Linked DNA regions of Homo sapiens: region 2 is linked to region 1. The links come from fine-mapping of genetic effects on gene expression. A gene starts in region 1. The other region holds a variant in brackets. All regions are shown on one strand. Distances are between the middles of the regions. Region 1 holds the start of DNAJB14 (DnaJ heat shock protein family (Hsp40) member B14). Region 2 overlaps DNAJB14 (DnaJ heat shock protein family (Hsp40) member B14).

The links. PIP is the estimated chance that this variant, and not a neighbour inherited with it, causes the effect.
Region 2: its variant is fine-mapped to the expression of DNAJB14 in whole blood (INTERVAL, PIP 0.91).

The regions. Positions count from the first base shown.
Region 1 is chr4:99,943,602-99,948,993 of GRCh38, reverse strand. DNAJB14 (DnaJ heat shock protein family (Hsp40) member B14) reads left to right here and starts at 2,376. Exons shown (of 8, transcript NM_001031723.4): 1 at 2,376-2,555. The coding sequence starts at 2,423. H2AZ1 (H2A.Z variant histone 1) reads left to right here. Exons shown (of 5, transcript NM_002106.4): 4 at 54-183; 5 at 471-906. The coding sequence ends at 532. RefSeq lists enhancers at 1-65, 2,943-2,992 and a silencer at 2,113-2,772.
Region 2 is chr4:99,901,667-99,907,058 of GRCh38, reverse strand. DNAJB14 (DnaJ heat shock protein family (Hsp40) member B14) reads left to right here. Exons shown (of 8, transcript NM_001031723.4): 5 at 448-542; 6 at 1,353-1,462; 7 at 3,161-3,333. Among named protein-coding and RNA genes, the nearest start is that of LAMTOR3, 9.9 kb to the right of the region's middle. The variant A/C (reference allele first, on the strand shown) is at 2,547.

The DNA of each region.
Region 1 (5,392 bases):
TGAATCTTGGCCAAAGGAAAGTTGGAAGGCAACTGACAGATTCTGCCTTTTAGGTACTTGAACTGGCAGGAAATGCATCAAAAGACTTAAAGGTAAAGCGTATTACCCCTCGTCACTTGCAACTTGCTATTCGTGGAGATGAAGAATTGGATTCTCTCATCAAGGCTACAATTGCTGGTGGTGGTATGTTAACTTCTAACATTTTAAAAAATTTCTTCAGAGGAAGGAATTTTTTGCTGCTTTTAATTAGTTTTTCCAGGAGAGGAAATTTAAGTATATTTTCAATGATGGAAGTATGGTTGTATCATGAAATTTGATTTATATGTATAACTCAATGAATTTTTACTTCATACTTGAGCTGCATGTTTTTAAAGATACCTTTCAAGTTGAACAGTATACACTTTCTTGGTTTCAAATACTGTGATTTTTTAAAAAATCTTAAGTAGAATTAATTCCTGTCACTCTCCTAGGTGTCATTCCACACATCCACAAATCTCTGATTGGGAAGAAAGGACAACAGAAGACTGTCTAAAGGATGCCTGGATTCCTTGTTATCTCAGGACTCTAAATACTCTAACAGCTGTCCAGTGTTGGTGATTCCAGTGGACTGTATCTCTGTGAAAAACACAATTTTGCCTTTTTGTAATTCTATTTGAGCAAGTTGGAAGTTTAATTAGCTTTCCAACCAACCAAATTTCTGCATTCGAGTCTTAACCATATTTAAGTGTTACTGTGGCTTCAAAGAAGCTATTGATTCTGAAGTAGTGGGTTTTGATTGAGTTGACTGTTTTTAAAAAACTGTTTGGATTTTAATTGTGATGCAGAAGTTATAGTAACAAACATTTGGTTTTGTACAGACATTATTTCCACTCTGGTGGATAAGTTCAATAAAGGTCATATCCCAAACTAGTTGTGTATTAAATTTGCTTGGTTGTAATAGGAACTTGTTTTGAGTATCTCATCTAGCAGCAATAACTAAGCACATTTCTTTGTGACTGAACTGTCAAATCTGTAGATCAACAAAGTGAGATAGCCCAAGTATATTTTTTTAATGTTATATGAGCTACTAAAGTTTTAATTTAAAAAGTTGGCAGGAGCTGGAGTGGGATTGTCAGTTTCTTAGGCTAAGTGTGACCATTTCAGTTTGTACATTGGCTTCGCTTGCTGTGTGACAGCACTGCACTAGTATGCTGTTAGCATGGTGGACTTGGGGAGGGAGAGAATAGGTAGGAATGTCCTGTATATCCACAGAATGAACTCCGAATTTAAACTTTAAAGATAATAGTGCTACGTGCCAGGCCCTGCTTTGAAGTCTGAAGTTGTTAAGTACTCAGTAACATCATTGGGGATATACTATCTCCATTTTATCGAAGAGAAGCAGGGTTTCTTATTTGAAAGTACCGAGTTATGGTAGTTAGCAGAATTAACAGCTTGGCTCACAGCATTATGTAAAAATTGTTACCTTGTGGTTGGGTTGAGCAGGTCATTTTGACAGTTTGTCATGTTTTTTTTTAAAAAATTTGCACATAGCAAACATTCCCCCCACCCCCACCGCGAAGACTAACAAGACACGGTACTTCCAAGTGGTAATGTTATCCAAATGGGACGGAAAAGGTGAAATCAAAAGTTTGCTTTCGTTAGGGCAGCCCCTGAGGGGCTGATTCCTGCCTTGTTTTGGCTACACAGGATTAAGGTCGATCTGCACCACTCGTTGCAAGCTACAAATTAAACTGCTTTGTACTTTGGATAGCCAGACATCCGGGTCAGAAAAAATGTAGCTGAAATAAGGCTGCCATACAAGCCCTAAGATTAGGTTCAAACGACGCTCTAACGTGTCCCGGAAGTGCTGAGACTGGACTGACACCTTGGTCCTCACCTGACCGCATCCTCCCTCGCTTGAGGGGCCCAGAGGCGGAACCTCCAAGTCCTGGCAATTTTACTGAAAACGAGTGTCCCCTTCCCGGACCCTGTCCTCCTGGCCTGAGCTGCGAGGGCCTCGCCTGGAGGTCACAGGGCACGGCGCTACCAATGCCGGCAATCGGGTCCCGGGCGGAACCCCTCCCCGCGATGGGCAGCCCGGCTGCTATCGTCCGCCTCCCGGGCAGGTCCGCTTCGAGCCTGCTGGCGCCGTGCGCGGACCACCGAGTCAGCTCGGACGCCCCGGCCCAGGAGGTTGGTCCTGGGCCGGGACGGATGCGGATCGCGCCCTAGGGGCCCGCGGGGGGCGGGGAGGCCGCCGTGAGGAGGCGGAGCTGCGAGGCCCGCCCGTCCGCCCGGGCCGTCGCAGCCGCTGCCGCGGTCCCCTGCGCTCCTCCCCGCTGCCGCCGCACGCCCCCAGCCGGTCCCGCCTCGCCTCCTCCGCGGCGGCGGCTTCCGCCCTTCTTAGCTGCGCTGCCGGAGGAAACGGAAGAAGGAGCAAGCTATGGAGGGGAACAGGGATGAGGCTGAGAAATGTGTCGAGATCGCCCGGGAGGCCCTGAACGCCGGCAACCGCGAGAAGGCCCAGCGCTTCCTGCAGAAGGCCGAGAAGCTCTACCCACTGCCCTCGGCCCGCGGTGAGACCTCAGCGTCCCTTCTCTTCCTGCCCAATCCCCAGACCACCGCGTAGCCCGCCCCTGCCCCCACCTCGGCCCCTCCTGGAGGCCTGCGGGGCCCCCGGCCTGTCTGAGCCAGCCCCAGCCCCAGGCCCGGTGGGGAGCATCCCGACACACCCCCGCCCTGGCCCCAGCCCCGGCTCCGGGCTGGGGCTCGGGGAATGCTGCGCGAGGTTCCTCTGCACCCGCCTGCCCGCCGGCTCCGCGTTCCGCTGTCCTAAATGTCCGGGTTTCATTCTCCCTGGAGGAGACTTGTCTGGTCCCGTCTTACCACAGTGAGGCTTTATTTGTATCTGTGTTGTTTATGTGGCCCCCTCCCTCCCCATTCTCAGTCCTACATAAGGCCTAGGCCCCTATCGAAGTGAGAGGAATGGTGTACTCTAGTGGCTAATCTCAGATTCCATGTTTCTGAGATCTGTAGAAAACTGTTCCCAAAGCAAACATCGAATACCTGAGATGACATTGCTTTTCCCTGGGAGAGAGTTCCTTTAAAAGAGAAGAGCACACTTTCGGCAAGAATGGTCAAGAGTCAGTAATGATTGCTGAAGAGTATCTGATTTGATAACACCATGATTATCGACGAACCAAATCTCTGAGGAATATGGTACTGGGTTTCCTTTAGTTGAAGTCAGCTTATTTATTTTCCTACTCGATAGGCTTCGGAGTAATAATAGCCAACATTTATTGAGCACAAAGTGCCAATAGTTGTGCCCAACATTTTGCATGGATTATTTCATTTATTCCTCAGAACAATTCTGTGTAGAGGTGCAGGATTCATTTGACCAGGTTTACCCACGTGGAAACAGACTTTCTGATAATTAATGAATGAATTAGCGAATGAATGAAAGTATCTTACCCAAGGTCACACAACAATTAGTAGCAAAGTCAGAATAGTAGCTGAACTTTCAGACTCGAAAAGGCCTTTAACCGCTACACTGTTGCCTTGCCATTAGTATTTCCAGGTTAAGAAGAAAGTTATCGATAGATTCAATTAATTGTAGAAAATTATTAATGAAAATATGGGGCCACTTGTTTTGTTGTCTCTTAAATTTTTTTCTCTACGTCGTTGAAGCCCTGTGCTCTTTGCTTTTCTCTCTATCCTTTCCATTACATTGCCTTCTAACACTATACCCATGAGGACAGGAAAATAAAATGAAAGAAAAGAGTTAATAATTTTTTAAGTTGTGGTTTAAAAACCTGCCAAATTTACGGTCTTAACTATTTTTAAGTGTGCAGTCCATTAGTGAAGTATATTGACATTGTTGTGCAAGGACTCTTCAGAACTTTTTCATCTTACAACACAACTGTGTACTAATCAGACAGCTCCCTACCGCCCCGTCTCCTAAGACCCTGGCAACTACCATTCTACTTTGTGTTTCTGTGAATTTAACTACTTTAGTTACCTCAGATAGGTAGATTCATGCAGTATCTTTTTGTGACTGTCTTACTTCACTTAGCATAATGTTCCCAAGTTTCATTTATGTTGTAACGTGAAGAATTCCTCTTTAAAAAAATACTGATTAGGCTGGGCGCGGTGGCTCACGCCTGTTATCCCAGCACTTTGGGAGGCCGAGGCGGGCGGATCATTTGAGGTGAGGAGTTCGAGACCAGCCTGGCCAACATGATGAAACGCCATCTCTACTAAAAATACAAAAAAATTAGCCAGGCGTGGTGGTGCATGCCTGTAATCCCAGCTACTAGGGGATGCTGAGGCAGGAGAATCGCTTGAACTCGGGAGATGGAGGTTACAGTGAGTCGAGATGGCAACACTGCACTCCAGCCTGGGCGACACAGCGAGACTCCATCTCAAAAAAACAAAAAAAAAAAGACCAAAAAAAAGCTACAGTAAAAAAACTGAATAATATTCCATTGTATATATACACCACATTTTGTTAATCCATTCATCTGTCTATGGACATTTGGGTTCCTTTCACCTCTTGGCTATTATGAATAATGCTGCTATGAACAAGGATATGCAAAGAGCCTGCTTTCAATTATTTTGGATACCAAGAAGTGGGATTGTAGGATCATACAGTAATTCTATTTTTAATTTTTGAGGAACCACAATACAGTTTCTGTAGCGCCTGCACCATTTTACTTTCCCACGAACAGTACATAGGGTTTCAGTTTCTCACCATCCTTGCCAACACCTATTTTCTGTTTTTGTTGGTTTTGATAGTACCCATCCTTGAGTGGGAGGTGATATCTCATTGTGGCTTTGATTTGCATTTCTCTGATGATTAGTGATGTTGAGCATCTTTTCATATGCTTATTGGCTAGTTTTATAATATCCCATTTTTGGAGAAAATGTCTGTTCAAGTCCTTTGCCCATTTTTAAATCACATTACTTGTTTTTTTTTTGTTGAGTTGTAGGAGTTCCTTATTTATTCTGGATATTAACCCCTTATCAGATATGTGATTTGCAGATGTTTTCTCCTATTTATATGTTGCCTTTTCATCACTTTGTTGATGGTGCTATTTGATGCACATAAGTTTTTAAGTTTGTTGTAGTGCCATTTTTCTATTTTTGCTTTGTTTTTTTGTGCTTTTGCTGTCATATTCAAGAAATCATTGCCAGGAGTTAATTATTTTTGAATCCTCCCCTACTGTTGAATATGATTTCATTTAGTCATTATCTAGTCCTAGAGGGACAGTTTTAACATTAAGTGAGTAGGCAGTCTAGACAGAATAACTTGGCTTTTGAAGTCTGACTCCACCTACTAGCTTGTAACCTTATTTTTGAGCAGGGTAGAGAACCTCTCTAGCCTTTAGCTTTTTCGTCTGTAAAATGGAGACAA
Region 2 (5,392 bases), 42 kb after region 1:
GGTCCATCTATACCAAGATATATTATAGGGCTATTTTTTAAAAATGAATTTGAACACTATCTTTTGATTTCTAGAGATGTTTATGATTCATTGATAAATGCAAAAAGCAAAGTTTCAAAGTAATAATCCAACATTTATAAAAACAACTAATCACAACTAATCATAAACAAAAGAGGTTTATAAAAACCTCTATGTGTGTAGAGAAACTCTTAGTCAAGTTTTCATAAAGAAGGAACTTCTACCTGTAACGGAAGCAGATTGGGAAGAATCATTCCTATTTCTGTCCACCCTTCACTTACAAGAGGAGAGGGCAATAAGTATTTACTACTGAAAATACACATGCATTATTTTAGTAATTTTTTAAAATTAAAGAAAAATGTGAAAGAAAATGTATTTTTTCTGATCATAATTGCTCTCCCTAATTTAACCTTGCTTTTAATTTTTTAGGTAGTGTACATTCTTTTTCAAATGGAAGAGCTGGTTATAGCCAACAACATCAGCATCGACATAGTGGACATGAAAGAGAAGAGGAAAGAGGAGATGTACGTTTATGACTAGAAATCACAAAATGGCAAATTTCAGCTCAGGAAAAGTAATTAGAGTTGTCTGAAAAGAGGGCAAGTAGTTGTAGGAAATAATGAGTTTTCTCTTACTAGAGGTGTTTGGTAGAGACTAGAAAATCCTTAGGGACATTGTAGGAATAGGAAGAGAGGTCAGCCAGGGGTGGTTGGATAGTATGACCCCTTTAGATTTGTTATTCTATGATTCTAATGAAGGTACACCTGCACTATGCATGTTGTGAAGGTAACTTGTTATTGTTGGCCCTGAAGAATTTAGAGTACTGAAAAACTTGAATTGGAGGTAACTTTCCTTGTTCTAATGCAGTTATACCTAATTGCCTATAGCAATTTAATTACATGAAGTGGAAAGGTAAATGGAAAGAGCACTAGACTAGAAATTAAAAGGCCTGGCCCCCAGCTTTGCCACTCATCAGCTCCCATCTTCTACCCTCAAATCCAAGGTAAAAAATGGTTTTACAGCCTGCAGCATATTGATAGCGTCTCTGTGTGTGGGGGGGAGGGAGTCGGGAAAGAGAAAGAGAAAGAAATGAAGACTTCCTCATCTATAAAATGAAATCAAATTTTATCAGTGTTTTTCAAATCAGAATCTCCTGGTGATATGCCTGGATAATTATATTTAAGAATCATCCTATTGGCATGGTTACGCAGATTTGAAAGCACTGAACTAGATGATCTCAAATGCGCTTTCTGCCTCAAAATGTATGACAACTGTTGTATTATTAACAACTACAGTTATATTACAATTTGTTATTCTTTGATCATTTTTTATAGGGAGGTTTTTCTGTGTTTATCCAGCTGATGCCCATAATTGTATTGATCCTCGTGTCATTATTAAGCCAGTTGATGGTCTCTAATCCTCCTTATTCCTTATATCCCAGATCGTAAGTAGCCAAGTGAAGTTTTACAAAAAATGAATTGTTGCTATTTCTGACCTAGCTTCCTTTAAAGAGCTTGTGCTCTTTTAAACTTTTAAGTGCCAAATCTATTACTGCAAGTGTACCAGATTTTAAATTTCTATCTAATTTTTTAAAATAGTTACTTTAAGTAATAAATTTGTCTTATGTTGTTAATTTACATTTCTATTCTTCCACTGTGGATAAGGACAGAAATGCTATATTTGAACTTGATAACAATTTAATGTGGTAGGTAATGTGTTGACATTAAAGGCAAAAAATACTCTAAAGGACAAAACTAAAGACAGAGCAATGATTGATGTTACATAGATTTATATCATTAAGGGGAAAATGACTTTACTCTTCATTTTGCAAAATATCGATTAAATAAAAGCAAATATTACTTTTTTATGATGTATTTTTTTCACCATATACTTTATGTGTAAGAGGTCAGGACATAAAGGAAATTTAATACAGCATGCAATCTAGACAACTTTAATACAGTGAACATAAAGGAAACTATAACATCATATTGGCTGTTATAGCAGCATGAATAAATAAGAAGCATATAAAGAAAAAATAATAAAAATCAGTGATTTTACAGTATTAAAATCACATTGGTCTAAAAATAACAATTACCTTATTTCTTCCAAATAAGATTTTTATTAACAAAAAATTGAGATAACTTTATAAAAACACAGTATATTTAAAAGTGTGGTTACTTTTTGTGACATGAAATCATGGTTTTAGGCAATTTGAGATAACGTAAATAAATTACAAGTTGATTTTTGTAATTTATAATACAAATAAGATTTTTATTAACAAAAAATTGAGATACTTTACAAAAGCATAGTATATTTAAAAATGTGGTTACTTTTTGTGACATGAAATCATGGTTTTAGGCAATGTGAGAGAATGTAAATAAATTAAAAGTTGAGTATTTCTTATCCAAAATGCTTGGGACCAGCAGTGTTTTGGATTTTGGGATTTTGGATTTTTTCAGATTTTGTAATATTTGCATATATTTTATGAGATGTCTTGAGGATGGTACCCAAGTCTAAAAATGAAATTT[A/C]TGTTTTATATATACCCTATTCACACAGCCTGAAGGTAATTTTATACAATATTTTTAGTCACTTTGTACATGAAACAAAGTTTGTATACATTGAACTATCAGAAAGCAAAGGTATCACTATCTCAGCCACCCATGTGGACAACCTGTGGTTGTTTGGCATCATTCCTGACTCTGAATTTATATGCTACTGATAAGCAATAATTTTCTTACTCTAATTCACATATAAGTATTTAACAGTGAAAAAATAATGTATTCAGGTTTAAATAACCACCAGCATATTAGCATCACCAGAATACCCGTGTCAGCTGTTAAACAATAGCAACGACAAACAACTACAGGCTTTTAGTTTCCACCTATGATGCTGTGTTTTGATTAAAAGGTGACCCATCACATGAGGTCAGCTTTGGAATTTTTCACTTGTGCCATCTTGTCGATGCTCAGAAAGTCTTAGATTTTAGAGCATTTCGGATTTCAGAGTTTCGGATTAGGGATGCTCAACCTGTATTACCAATATTAACTTTTCAATGATTTTTAATTGTTTTTGTTTGCTTGGTTTATAGCAGCATATTGGAATGTCCAATTTTAATTAAAATAATGATGCATCTCTTTTACAGTGGAACTGGGCAAACTATTAAAATGCAAACAGAAAACTTGGGTGTTGTTTATTATGTCAACAAGGACTTCAAAAATGAATATAAAGGAATGTTATTACAAAAGGTAGAAAAGAGTGTGGAGGAAGATTATGTGACTAATATTCGAAATAACTGCTGGAAAGAAAGACAACAAAGTAAGTTTGTCATGTGTTTAACATTTTAAAACTTATTCGCAGTCTTTGGAACTGATTAATGTAGATTTCCCTATTCAAGGAATGTTCTGGAATTCCCTGGCACATAATTGGAGCACAGTACTTAAATGAGATCATGTGTTTTATATACATGTGGCCTAACATCGGAATTGACACATAGTAAGGACTTAATAAATGGTACTTGTCTATTGTTATCAATAAATATTTGGTTGAATAAGTAATACCAAATTTTATTGTATTGATAATATCCATCATAAGACACATCATTCTTTTATGTACCACCAAGAAACAAAAAATATCCTGGCAGATAAACTATGTCATCAATTTTAAGATGCATACTGTTTTCAGAGTTAAGTTTGAAACTCTATTAATTTAGCTTTTGTATTTAGAATTTAATGTACAATGAGTTTTGTTGACATTTCTTTTTTCTTTACTTTGTACACAGAGAGACTCTTCAGAACACTTCATTTGCTTAGGCTTTTCCAGCCTCAGTTTTCTTAATTTAAGGAACAGTTCCATCTATAAAGATTGATATAAGAATCTGCTGAGATGTTGCATGTGAATTGAGTGTTGTGGTTCTTGTTTTTGTGACCATTGTTGTGAATAATAATGTAGACCATATAGTGTAGTGTTAGGAGAACTGACTTTGGAATTAAACTGAGTAAAGTTGAATCCTAGCTCTGAAATTTTTAGCTGACGAATTGTAACCTCTATGAGTTTCATGTGTAAAATGGGTGATGATGAGTGGGAGGAGGAAATAATAGCTATCATTTATATAATGCCTGTTTCAGTCACTGTCCCAAGCACATTGTAAGTATTAACTCATTTAATCTTCACAACAACCCTGTGAGATTATACTTATTTTACACATGAAGAAACTGAAGCAAAGAGAGATTACTAACTTGCCCAAGGTCATAGAGGTCGTTTGTGATTGAAAACCAGACAATTTGTCTCTAGAATCCAGGCCCTGTGCTCCAACGTCTTCTCAGAAATAACCAACTTTATGGGGTTTGTTGTGAAAATTAAATCAGGCAATAAAGTACTTCACACATAGTGAATGCTCAGAAAATGTCAGCAATTATCATCATCTCCCCCTTGCTAGGGAAAAGTTGATAAAATGTAACTTCTAAGAGAGTCCTTAACCTCTCTGGTCTTGGTTTTCTCCTCTATTTAGTGGCAGTTAGAGATGTGACCTCTTTGACTTCTAACTCAATGAGTTTGTGAAATCAGTCTGTCCTCAGTGTGGAGAAGCTTACATTAGACTAGTGATTTTTATGTTTTCAGCTGGGAGTGAGTTGCCACCCTTCCCCCACCCCACCCATCCCTAGAGATGTTTGGTAACGTCTGGAGATACTTTTGTGTGTCATCATGGGATGGGAATGGAAAGGGATTGCTACTAGCATCTAGCGGGTTAAGGCCAGGGATGCTGCTAAACATCCTACAATGCACAGACCCCCCACAACAAAAAAATTATCCAGCCCAAGCAGTACTTGAAATAATGGAAAGAATATTAGGCTAGGCATTGGAGAGTTGGACTGGAATCTAGACTCTGCCATTCGTTAGCAGTGTGAACTTCGGTTTATCTAAGTCTCAAATTTCTTCTTTGGGAAGAGTCATCTGTAAATAGATATAAGCGCATTATGTGTAAATAAAAGGCATAGGATAATATTGATTGAGTTGTTAATCCTAGTCCAGTTGATTTAGTAAAGATTATTTCTGGAGATCTTTACAAATGGAATACTGTCTTAACTGTGAGTATATCTTGAATGTGATCTTGACTAATCCATATAAACCAGATGTCTTCTACTTTGGCCATTGTGTTCCAGAAAGTAACTGATTTCTTTTTCTGTTACATCTTCTTTAAGTGCTCCTAGTCTTTACAGGTATTAATAAACAGTGAAATGACTGAGAGTAACAGGAAAAAACAAGAAATACTCCTTGAAGAATTTTGATTTGTAGTCTGTATATCATTAGTAGCTGTGCTGTCCCACACACTGAAGGAAGCCTCAGAAGTACTTATTTGCTGAATAGCAATATTACG